3 separate regions of the Homo sapiens genome follow, and all the other regions are reported to be linked to region 3. Evidence: microRNA targets listed by miRTarBase, many of them from high-throughput screens and not tested one by one. Region 3 holds a microRNA gene; each other region holds the end of a gene's coding sequence.
The links. The annotated mature microRNA hsa-miR-4329 reads CCUGAGACCCUAGUUCCAC and lies in region 3 at 1,776-1,794, opposite strand. An mRNA with a match to its seed (bases 2 to 7 or 8) in the 3' UTR can be bound and repressed. Matches are read on the target gene's strand: a 7mer-m8 pairs with bases 2 to 8, a 7mer-A1 pairs with bases 2 to 7 and ends in A, and an 8mer does both.

Region 1: miRTarBase lists CLIP4 as a target of hsa-miR-4329. Seed matches in the 3' UTR shown: 7mer-A1 at 2,962-2,968.
Region 2: the mRNA of NDUFA9 is a reported target of hsa-miR-4329. Seed matches in the 3' UTR shown: 7mer-m8 at 1,855-1,861, 8mer at 1,964-1,971 and 7mer-m8 at 2,180-2,186.

What each region holds. Positions count from the first base shown.
Region 1 is chr2:29,181,596-29,185,595 of GRCh38, reverse strand. CLIP4 (CAP-Gly domain containing linker protein family member 4) reads right to left here. Exons shown (of 16, transcript NM_024692.6): 16 at 1,788-4,000. The coding sequence ends at 3,703. Among named protein-coding and RNA genes, the nearest start is that of CLIP4, 68 kb to the right of the region's middle.
Region 2 is chr12:4,686,511-4,690,510 of GRCh38, forward strand. It overlaps NDUFA9 (NADH:ubiquinone oxidoreductase subunit A9), which reads left to right. Exons shown (of 11, transcript NM_005002.5): 11 at 428-4,000. The coding sequence ends at 598. Among named protein-coding and RNA genes, the nearest start is that of GAU1, 32 kb to the right of the region's middle.
Region 3 is chrX:112,778,953-112,783,689 of GRCh38, forward strand. MIR4329 (microRNA 4329) reads right to left here and starts at 1,836; the gene lies at 1,766-1,836. AMOT (angiomotin) reads right to left here. Exons shown (of 14, transcript NM_001113490.2): 11 at 3,588-3,710; 12 at 1,934-2,166; 13 at 45-728. RefSeq lists an enhancer at 441-941.

The DNA.
Region 1 (4,000 bases), not on the chromosome of region 3:
TTAGGAATGTTTATTTTATAATCAAACAGTATATGTGACATTGTTTGTAAATAAGGCCTGTGTACCAAGGGATACTAAACAATTACTAAAAATATACACGATAACGTGAGTTTTGTATTAACCACTGTATTTGTATTATAAATAAGTGAAGGAAAGGGCATGAAAAAAATAAATTAATCCTTCTATTGGCTTGCAATGTGGCTATGAATATTATATGTCTCTGAGTCATTTAGTCATTTGTTACTTAGATAACAAATATCCATCTGGTAAGTAGTTAAAATTACTAGAACTATTTCTCAATTAAGAATGATTTTAACACAATAGGCTTCTAGCCATTGGTTGATGTGGTTTAAATAATATTATCACACATTCTAAAAAGGGAGCCTCAAAATAAAACTCTGAAATAAAAATATCTAACACAGCCAGGCACGGTGGATCACACCTGTAATCTCAGCACTTTGGGAGGCCAAGGCAGGTGGATCACCTGAGGTCTGGAGTTCGTGACTAGCCTGGCCAACATGGTGAAACTTCATCTCTACTAAAAATACAAAAAATTAGCTGGGCATGGTGGTGGGTGCCTGTAATCCCAGCTACTCGGGAGGCTGAGGCAGGAGAATCACTTGAACCCAGGAGGCGGAGGTTGCAGTAAGCCGAGATCCCGCCACTGCATTACAGCCTGGGTGACAGAGCGAGGCCCTGCCTCAAAAAATATATATATAGATAGATAGAGATATATATTTAATACTGGAGATCAACGTTATCCCCACTTGAGTATGATCCAGTTCATTCTCTCCATATTAGACCACATGTATTACCATATTCTCTAAATTATCATCATATTAAAATAGGAATTCAAAGTTAGCCCCAGGCAGAAGGGAAAGGGAGCTGCCCCAGGTGGTCCTGCTGCGTCTTTCCTCCCCATTCCCTACTGCTGCGCCACTCAGCATCTGTTGTCTCTTACACGGCACTCTTCAGGGGTAAGTTGGGCTCCTGGATTCAAACTTTTCTTGTCCTCCTTCCTCCTTTCGTGTCTAAGAAAATTTACCTGTTCTGTGGCCTAGTCTTGCAAGGCCCCTTGTGTGAAGCTAGCTAGATACTATCTCTATTTCCAACAATCAATGGCCTTTACTGCCTTTGTTCACTCAACAAAACCGAGCATCTACTAGGTACCAAGTATTATTCTAGGTGTTGGGGATAAAGTGGTGAACAAAACAGTCAAAAATCCACTCCTCAATCTCGTGAAGGAAGAAAGAAATAATAAGCAAGAAGTTGTAATCAGTAATAAGCATGACCAAATGCTAAAGAGAAAAATAAAACATGAGAGGGAAACAAGGAGCTCTTGGGAGGAGGTGCCAGAGACTCACAACAAGATTACAACACCAGAGTTCACAGTTAGCAAACAGCAGTACTCAACATTCTTACATACTTAAAAATATTCCCCCCAAATCACCCTAAATATAAAAACAAAGTTTTTTAGTAAAAGGCAGCTAATTATTTCTATTTTTTAATCTAAATTCAAAGTGTTCCATCCTACCCTAAATAAACAAGTGAAATCCCAACTGTAGAAATACGTTCTTTTCTTAAATGACTCACTATTCATCAAAACAATACTAATAGGATGGTGGCTATGAACATAGACTGTTGAGTAGAAAGCATGATACTTTTTAATACTCTTTATAGGGACAGGACAAATCCAAGCCATTACCGTGAGGAAAAAGTTCAAAGCATATGCACCCTGAGTTACTGAGAAAAGCAGAGTTGCAAATAGGGTAAATGACAAGATACCATTCCAAAACCACACAGCTTCCCTTTTTATTGATGCTCAAGAAGTGAACTTTAAATGACATTTCATAAGCAAAACACAAATGAAAACACCTAATGTGCATGTATAGTATATGTAAACATACATAGTATATGGACTCAATCATCCTCATCTAAATATAAAGAGAACAACTGGTTCTTTGACCTCAAAAATAAATTCAATGTTGGCATTACTGTTTTTAACTTACAGTGTTTTATATTTAACAGGAAAAATTATGAATAACCAAGTTTGGTGTGGTCATGGATTTCATGTTAAGGTATAAATAGAGTTTTTAAGAAATAATCTGTATAATAAAATAAGTTTACTTTTGAATCGCAGTACAGTCATTTCCTTCAATCAATAAAAATATTCCTTGATTACAAAGCAGCCTTATTTTGCAAATGTATTTCAGGAAAATAGCTCTAGCAATATTTGAAATACCACACTATTTTAAAAAGGCAGCGAAGTGACAGAATTTAGATTTAAAATAGTATATTGCAAAATAGTTCAACATATTATTTCTAAGCACAAGGCAAGCTCCATTCTGAAGGATGCTTTTTAATCTTATAAAGCAAACTGTTCCAATATTTCTGTGGTAAAGTCTAAATATTTACAATAAAAGATGAATCTTTACACAGACAGGACATAAACTTCAATACCTAACCACAATGCAAACATTTTACATTATGACATCACTCTAATGTGAAGCTTAGTTTGTTAACATGTGCTCAAGAAGGAAAATAAAAACAATACAGTTCTGTAGCTTTGTAACAGGCAGAACTCTGCAACAATTAGAGAAATAAAAACAGCAAACAACACCAGTTCTATGAGTAACAAAACAAAAAAAATCCAGATATTATAAACATTTAAGTAAATAACTAATACATCCTTCCTGATATATCTTTATTTGCTCTCTTCTGTTAAATACGTTTTTTAAAATGTTTCTCATATCCCAGGAGGAAAGGACAGTAAATTATTCACAAAGATAAAAGTGCATCATGTTTGAAAAGTGCTTTGTGTTTATGTGTTACAAACATATCCAATAAGGAAGTTAAGTAAGTCTGTGCAAAAAAAATCTAATTATTACTTGAATTCATAAACCTTAATCATGGGTTTTTTGTAGTTCATCCAGATGAAGCAGTCAAGCAGCAGAAGAAAAATCTGAGATTAGACATTTTGTATAGCAGAAAGAGCACTGGGCCACAAGTGAGGAGACCCACAGTCTATTCTTAGCTCAGTTAACCAACCAGTTAGTGACCCCAGGTAAGACGGGCTTCCATTTCAGTATTTGGCAATGGGCAAGAAGCAGAGCTGGAGAGCCTCTAAGGCCCCTTCCAACTCCAAAATTATCATGTATCTTTAGATGAGGCATTTCTGAAAGGGCAAATAATTTTACCAAAATATAAAACTACATACTAGTCATCTAGCTACTACTCACTCATTGGACTTATTAGTAATAAAGCACAGAAAGAAAGAAAAATTCCAAAAATGATTGACAAAAAAAGGTCACGTGAACATTACACATAACCAAAGCTAGAGAAACCCTTCACAATTAGGGCACTAAGAAAAATCCATTATGATGTGCAAAAACAAAACAGAATAAGCAAGAAATGCAACAGCTGGTCACCTGATGGCACTTTTTCTTCCTGAGTCCCAGAATCTTCTTGGAACCTAAAGCTTTAATTGGTACTTATTTTGAAAATTGCTTTAAAAGAACCATGATTCCCCATAGTTCATATTCATGGCTTTGTAAAGAACTCTCTCTGAATTGTTATAATGGTTTTTAAGAAGATAACTATATTTTCAAAATTTTAATATGGCTAAATAAAGTAAACCATTTACCATGGACTCTTTATTTACACCAAATATATATATTTGAGCTTATTTAATATTTTAGAAGCTTAACAATTCTCATCCACAAGTTTTGACCCATTAATTCCCCGATAGGTCACTCTGCTCGGTCGAACTAAGACTCCATGGTTCGGCTTACAGGTGAAATAGCGCTTGTCACCCACTGACCCATCATTTTTTCCCTTGGCGCTTCGGAGCTCAAGTCCAAGCCAGATACCTGAAGCAAAGTCAGTGGGGCCCACATACCTAACAGTACCCATCTCATTGGAGCTCGTGAGCAGGACCTGAGACCCCTCGTGCAGCTTCACGCTCCCTTCAATGCCACCTGCGGTGGGGGTGCTGCTCCAA
Region 2 (4,000 bases), not on the chromosome of region 3:
AGAAAACAGGGGCGTGAGAGGACTGAGGAATGGACCAGCTCTGCTTAAGCCCTGATTTTATTCCTAAACCCTCCTGTTCAGCCTCCCCTGGCAAGTGTGGTGACTTGTGCTTCCCTGCCCTAGATTTATTTCTGTTGAAATCTGTATATAGAATGGCTCATGTAGTGCCAACATCCTGTGCTCGCGGCTGCCACTGGGGACCTCGATCTGATACTTGGTGATCTCGCCCTCTTTTGTCTTAAGCCCTCTTTGTGTGTTCTGCTTTTATAGTGATTTGCATGAATCGAAAATTGCCACATATTCTTTGAAAGCAATTAAGTCTCAATAATAGGACTCATGCCAGCTTGAATGTTTAAGTGCCTGCTAGGATAGCACTTTGTTCTCAGCCAGTTTTCAGCATTGTCTGTGGTCCTTTGTTTATCCAAAGATGCACATCACAGACATGAAATTGCCTCACCTGCCTGGCTTAGAAGACCTTGGTATTCAGGCAACACCACTGGAACTCAAGGCCATTGAGGTGCTGCGGCGTCATCGCACTTACCGCTGGCTGTCTGCTGAAATTGAGGATGTGAAGCCGGCCAAGACCGTCAACATTTAGTGCCTCCTGAGCAGCTCTTGGTTTTGGCGTCTTTTGGGTCGGCCCATGTGGTTTGAGCACCCAGCCAGGCGGTCTCTTTAGAGGATCCTGTACACAGTTCCACTATTAAAACATTTCAGGTTGAATTCTGCAGTATTTTCTTCCTTGATTTACAAAATGAGAAATGTAGTCACTTAGAACTTGAGCATGATTTTTGTTAAACATATTTAATAATGATATATATACTATTTATTCTCTGAAATGCCAGAGAGTTTGAATTTTCCTATGACAAACCACTTCTAGCATACGTTCTAGAAGACAAGGACCCTTTTTAATGTCAAAGTATTGTAAAGACCCCAAGTGATATGTGATTGTTTTTTAATTTCCATTAAATGAGAGAGCATACAGTATCCCCTAACCTGAATGTGTTTACACTGAAGGTGTTTTTAAAATTTATTTTAATAATGTCCATATGCCTTTTAAAAATAGTAGTACATATATAGAAAAACATTGTCCATAGATTCTCAAACCCCTTGCAGTAATTCCACAGTCTTCTTGGATCTGAGCTATCTGAGGCCAGCCCGATGCCCTTAGTACCACATCTGGATTATTTCAGACACATAGGTGGAGATAGATTCTCTTCACATGCAAAGGAGATGCTTCAGCTTCTATGCCAGCAGTGCCAGCACTTAGGAATTATGACCTTCTAATGAAGTTCTTAAAATTGCAGCCAAGACCCAGATGAACATTTGGTTTAGTGTTGGCAAATCCCACCAGTACAGTGTGATTTAAAACTCCCACAATTTGTGGTGAAGCCAACATACCACCATCCTAGGTGACCCAGGGTTGGTCATTGTGTTTCACTGGACTTCAGCCTCCTGATCTATATTTGGGACAGGGATGTCAGTAAAAACGCTGTTTGATGAGGGAATGCCCGTCTCCTTACAGAGAGAAAGGTATATCAGTGTTGAAGGTAAGTTCTCCACCTGCCCTTTCTGCCTGCATCAGAATCTTTTTATCCCAAAACGGTCAACAGTGAGCTACTCCAAGTGTGGTCCATAGATCACCAGCATTGGGATCATCTTGGGGCTTGTTAGAAATGCAGAACCCGGGCTGGGCACAGTGGCTCACACCTGTAATCCCAACGCTTTTGAGTTGCTGTGGTGGGACGGTCGCTTGAGGCCAGGAGTTTGAGACCAGCCTAGGCAATATGGCAAGACCTTGTCTCTACAGAAAAATTTCAAAAAGTTAGTAGGGCATGGTGGCACGCACCTGTAGTCTCAGTTATTCGGGAGGCTAAGGTATGATGATTGCTTGAGCCTGGGAGTTCAAGGTTACAGTGAGCTATGATAGTGCCACTGCACTTCAGCTTGGACTGAAGATCCTGTCTCAGAAAAAAAAAAAAAAAAAGGCAGAATCCTAGGTTTTGTCCTGTCCCAGGCGTGTTGAATCAGAATCTGCATTTTAGCAAGGTCTCCAGGAGATTTGTATGCACATTACAGTATGAGAAGCACTGCCATACAGAAGAGCTGTATCAGAGTTCAGTGTGATCCCTGTTATTAATCCAGGTTGCTGACCCCACCCCAGACCTACTGAATCAGAGTCTCAGGAAGGAGGGCCCAGGAATTTTAGTTTTATTAAACATTCTAGTTTATTCTCCTGTACACTAGTATGTCAGAATCAGCGTACTAGGGAAAGGAACACAAACCCAACTTCACGTTTTTTCTTCAGATGCTGTCTGTTATTTTGGATGACACCCCTCCTGGCCATAAGCCAGCCATTAGGCACAGAGATGGGTGGATTTAATTTGAAAAGGAACTATAATTCTATAATGCACAGTGTCCTCTCTTAGAATATCTACACTTTCTTTCCTTTTTTTGATTCTTAAAAAAAAACTTATTGATACATAATAGATGTAAATATTGTCAGGGTATATGTGGTAATTTGATATATTCATATAATCAATCAGTGTAATTGGGATATCCATCACCTTAAACATTTACCTTTATGCTAGTAACATTCAAATTACTCTCTTCTAGCTATTTTGAAATGTACAGTAGATTAGTATTAACTCTAGTTACCCTACTGATCTATTGAACACCAGGTCTTACTTCTTCTGTCTTAACTGTAATTATCTTCATTTTCTAGCAATGCTATTTCTCATCTCTAACTTGTATCATCTCAGGATGCTGTATATTTCTTTTATTTTTTATTTTTTATTTTTTTATTTTTATTGATCATTCTTGGGTGTTTCTCGCAGAGGGGGATTTGGCAGGGTCATAGGACAATAGTGGAGGGAAGGTCAGCAGATAAACAAGTGAACAAAGGTCTCTGGTTTTCCTAGGCAGAGGACCCTGCGGCCTTCCGCAGTGTTTGTGTCCCTGGGTACTTGAGATTAGGGAGTGGTGATGACTCTTAACGAGCATGCTGCCTTCAAGCATCTGTTTAACAAAGTACATCTTGCACCGCCCTTAATCCATTTAACCCTGAGTGGACACAGCACATGTTTCAGAGAGCACAGGGTTGGGGGTAAGATCATAGATCAACAGCATCCCAAGGCAGAAGAATTTTTCTTAGTACAGAACAAAGTGAAGTCTCCCATGTCTACTTCTTTCTACACAGACACAGCAACAATGTGATTTCTCTATCTTTTCCCCACATTTCCCCCTTTTCTATTCCGCAAAACCACCATCGTCATCATGGCCCGTTCTCAATGAGCTGTTGGGTACACCTCCCAGACGTGGTGGTGGCCGGGCAGAGGGGCTCCTCACTTCCCAGTAGGGGCGGCCGGGCAGAAGCGCCCCCCACCTCCCGGACTGGTCGGCTGGCTGGGCGGAGGCGCCCCCCACACAAACACTGAAGCCGTAGCATTGACTAAGGAAACAATTTTACCATCCTAAGCTAGTGGATGTCACCCTCTCAGTGTATGGAGGTTGCATATGACAAGTAACTGGGAGCTGGGCATAAGATCTAGGACACTCATATCCAGGGTGATTCTCTTCATAAGGAGGCATGGGCTGAGTCTCCATTTATAGGGGCTGTCCCCATAGAGACTTCAAGCCACACCTTTCTAGGGATTCAGGTTGCACATTACCTGATTCTCACAGTTGATTTGAGCCTGCAAGACTGTAAACCCATCCCATTATCATGTTTTCTTCCTCATTTACCTACATTTATCATTAAACCTTTGTGATTCAGCAAATCTGTTTACCTTCTGATTCTACTTTAAATTCCGTTCATGTTCTTCCTTGGCCCTCCTGTGTATTTCCCACAGCTTTGCTAGGCCTTAAGATCATCTCACATTCTTCATCCTAATGACAAAAATAAGTTCTATGGGCTGGGCGCGGTGGCTCTTGCCTGTAATCCCAGCACTTTGGGAGGCTGATGGGGGTGGATCATGAGGTTAGGAGTTCAAGACCAGCC
Region 3 (4,737 bases):
GAGCAGAACTAAACCAAAACCTACCTGCTAAAGGGAATAATTACCTGTTTTGTCTGGATTGCAGGTCAAACTTGGTATAGACAAACGATGTGGTCCAGGACCGGTAGCTGGACTTGCAGGAACCTCAGCCTGAGCCACAGCTGGAGTTGGAGTTGGAGCTGGAGTTGGAGCCACAGCCGGAGCTGAAGTTGGTGCCTGAGTCTGAGCAGGAGCAGAAGCCTGAGCCGCTGCTGGAGCTGGAACCGGAACCAGAGCCGGAGCTGGAACTGGAGCCGGAGCAGCTGGAGCAACCTGAACAGCAGCAGCAGCAGCAGCAGAAGGAGCAACGGCAGCAGCTGAGGCAACAGAGGCAGCAGCTGGAATCTGACCAGCAGCAGCTGGAGAAACAGCAGCAGCAGTAGCAGCGGCAGTGGCTGGAGACGGGGCAGCAGCAGCAGCTGGAGCAGCAGCAGCAGCAACAGCAACTGGAGCAGCAGCTACCATGGTGGTGGTGATGGTGGCAGCAGTGGCAGTGATGGCGGCAGCAGTGGCGGCAGCAGCAACTGGAGCAGGAACAGAGATGGGAGCAACAGCTGCAGTTTTGTTCGATTCCGTCCCACGTTCAGTTTGGGTACTGCAGTCTCGGCTGCCTGTCTTGGAGTGAGCCGAGAGCAGGGGAGTCGAGGGTGGCACAGGCGAGGGTGTGGAAGGGACATATTCAGCACGGTAGTCTCCACCCAGGAGAATGCCTACAAATGAAAGAGGAACAGATGTTAGAAAACAATAGGTGATTCAAATCCAGACATCTAATTACCTGTTCTCCCATTCAAATTTCAGAAGAAATTTATTTATTTTTAAATAAGTAAATATTATTTAAATATTTAAAATATTATTATTTTTAAATATTAAATAATTTAGAATAGTCTAAGTTATTTATTTTTGCCTCCAGGGAACCCAGAAATCAGTGTGTGAGGCTCCTCCAACCATGGCTAAAAGTTTCCTACAGACTTCGAGGATCCCTTCTGGTCCTCATCCATCACCTGGCACAACATATTAAGCCTGTAAGTGACCTGGGTATCTGTTTTGATTTATTTTTCCAATGGTGATTGGGTTCCACCAAGTTGTCAGAATGCTCCTACTCGGCTCCACTTATAAACCATTACCACACGTTACCAGGGAGCAAGAAAGGATCTGGGGAAGAAGTCTGTTGACACAGATTGAGTGTGGTAATAATTGTGTGATCTGAGGTTCTCACCATGACCATAGTCCCCAAAATGCTTATTCTAACCAAAAGATATTACAAGTATCAGAGGACCAAGAAAGGAATTAACAGCAACAAAAAGGGTTAAAATAAAAATATATATAAGCTTCCTTCCTCGGGCTCTAAAAATGTGCCTCGTGGTATCCACAATATGTCTGGGGTTTTGATTAGAGGGGAGGGAATGGACAGGAACGGAATGAAAAAGTACATTCTGTTCTCATCTCACAACACTGTGGGAACAAAACCTGCTACCCAAACGATTTAGTGTAACTAAAACTCTGGGTTCTCCTATTATAGAGGAGGAAGGAACACAGAAATGCCGGAATTTTGACATTTGGAACGACACAAAGGCCACATGGGCTTTGGAGAAAGATAAAGGTGCCACATGGCAAAGGCCAAATCTGAGAATAGTTTAGAGGAAATTAGAGTTATCTTCCTTGACACCCAAATGAAACTCAAGATTCTTGTCCTCTAAGCCTTGGCCTCAATCGGTATTCTCACCGGGAGACTTCAAAGTGTGGAGGAGCTCCAGAATGTGGAACTAGGGTCTCAGGAGGAAAAAAAAACTCCAAAACCCTGGTACACCTTCCTCTCTAGAACCTGGACCATCATCCCTTTTCCTTAAGCATGGGTGCTTATCTCAGGGCTCTCTTTGAACACGTGACTATAATCTTCCTTATTTACTGTCATTACCTAGGCTCCCCTTCCAGCTCTTGTCGTCTCGCTTTTCTTCCATGATGGGGGAGCCAGTCAGGGTGGATGAGTGGGAGAGCAAGCCTGATCCAGCATTGGAAATGGACATCAGAGACTTCGCTGGCCGCATGCACGACAGCTGCTCTGTCTTGCTCGGCTCCTTCCGGGAACGCTGCTGGAGTACTTTGATCATGGCATCCTTCTCAATAATCTGGGCATGGAGGGTCTTAATCCTAGGAGCCAAAGGCAAAGAACATATAAAGACCTTGTTGTGGGCTGGGCGCGGTGGCTTACGCCTGTAATCCCAGCATTTTGGGAGGCCGAGGTGGGCGGATTGCAAAGTCAGGAGTTCGAGACCAGCCTGGCCAACATGGTGAAACCCTGTCTCTACTAAAAACACAAAAATTAGCTGGGTGTGGTGGCAGGCGCCTATAGTCCCAGCTACTCGGGAGGCCGAGGCAGGAGAATCACTTTAACTTGGGAGGCGGAGGTTGCAGTGAGCCAAGATAGTGCCACTGCACTCCAGCCTGGGTGACAGAGCAAGACTGACTCCATCTCAAAAAAAAAAAAAAAAAAAAAAAAACCTTCTTGCTACCTCCACATTTTGGTCTAATTGACTACATGACTACGTGGAGCTCCCATTATCTTTTCGACTAAAGGCTGATCTAGTTAGTTCTGAGTTGGAAAACAAGGGATGGTGTGCTACAGTTTTTAAAACATGTTTTTTCTTTTTTCTGCACACCCAAATGGATACAGCAGAGCATCCAGGAGCTGTTGCTTAAATCTTAGTAAGTCACAATAAAGTACCAGTGAAAAAAAAGGCTGAATATGAGAGAATGAACTGATGTACTAGGTGCTGTAGTGAAGAATCTCAGTCAATGGAAACAATTTACTCAGTGAGAAGATGAGATCTATGAATGAGCGACAACCTGCAGGTAGTAAGTAAATGATCATGTGTTTATAAAAGGAATCAGGTATCCTACCTCCACTTTGAGTAGATGTTCTTTTTGTTGTTGTTGTTGAGACGGACTCTAGCTCTGTCGCTCAGGCTGGAGTGCAATGGCATGATCTTGACTCATTGCAACCTCTGCCTCCCAAGCTCAAGCAATTCTCCTGCCTCGGCCTCCTGAGTAGCTGGGACTACAGGTGCCCGCCACCACACCTGGCTAATTTTTGTATTTTTAGTAGAGACAGGGTTTCACCATATTGGCCAGGCTGGTCTTGAACTCCTGACCTCAGGTGATCCGCCCGCCTTGGCCTTCCAAAGTGCTGGGATTACAGGTGTGAGCCATTGTGCCCGGCCGAGCAGATGTTCTTTTACTCTTTTATTAAGCAATCTGCTGTATCACAGGGTTGTGGTGCAGTGCTAGAAAGAATACTCCAGAGTGCAAATGCCAACAATTCAGCTCAGGCAGAGGGAAGAGGAAAAGCAATTAGGAAGGCCAAAGGGACAGAAACCCTACCTGGAATTCCATGTTTAGTGGAGATTATCAAGGTAAAGGTCATTGCATCTCACACCTTTAAGTGACAGGCTGGCAGGGGTGATGGTGGAGCGGGGAGGCTGCATGATCAGATTTCCTAGCTGTGAATAAAGATCCTATGTGGTCTCTATATCAATGTCTCAGATTCCTCAGGGTCCAGAACAACATTTTACCTGCCCTCCATGTCAAGGCAACGCTTATTGGCCATCAAGATTTCTTCCTCCTCTTTCTGGATGCGAGCTTCTAGAGCTGTGTCATAGCTGGTGTTAGGAGAGTGACTGATGACTGTTGTGTCCCTGGGGAGGAAAATGGAAGTGATGAGATGGGAGCATAGCAAGATCAATGAATGTTATCTTTCTTCTAAGTCAAGGAAGGCTTTTCTGGAAAGTCCTAAGCTGAAATCAAGCACATTTGGAACAGATGGTTTCTGGGGAACTAACCCGTAAGAGCCTCCAAAATAGGACAGTTCAGCGTTCAGGGTAGAAGGCAACGTTATTAGTATAGAAGTGGCTGCAAAAGTCAGTGAGGGATGAGATATGCACAGACTTGCCTTCAGAACTGAACAGATATCATCCCAAAACCTTCTGGCAGATAGCCCCTTCAAGTTTTTAGATCATGGCCAAGCAACAGGAATATGTATATATTGGGCCAGGCATGGTGGCTCATGCCTGTAATCCTAACGCTTTGGAAGGCTGAGGCAGGTGGATCATCTGAGGTCAGGAGTTTGAGACCAGCCTGGCCAACATGGAGAAACCCTGTCTCTACTAAAAATACAAAAATTAGCCAGGCATGGTGGTGCACGCCTGTAATCCCCGCTATCTGGGAGGTTGAGGCAGGAGAATCACTTGAACCCGGGAGGTGAAGGTTGTTGTGAGGTGAGATCGAGCCACTACACTCCAGCCTAGGCAACAGAGGGAGACTCTGTCTCAAAAAAAAAAAAAAAAGGAATATGTATATATTTCCATTTTATTCTCCTAGAAGTCATAGAGGGGGAAAGGTCAGACTTTCAAGAAAGTCAGAGGGTATACTAAGTAACTTATGGCTACAGATGAACATTGGTAAATACACCTGAGTACTAGAAGCAAACAACAGACACATCAGCTAAGATTAGGTAGGGCATGTGAGCTAATAAATAGTGCCTTTGAGTCAGTCCCACTCGATTCCTATCTAATCTACATCTGAAACATTCTAGCACCAAATCAATGGGTCTACCCCAACAAAGTGACTGTTCTCTTGCCAGAGTTCTAACTGCATAAAGGACCATCATGTTCCATTTGAAAGTGTCTCAGGCCATTAACTCAAAGACCAATTAATAAGGAAAAA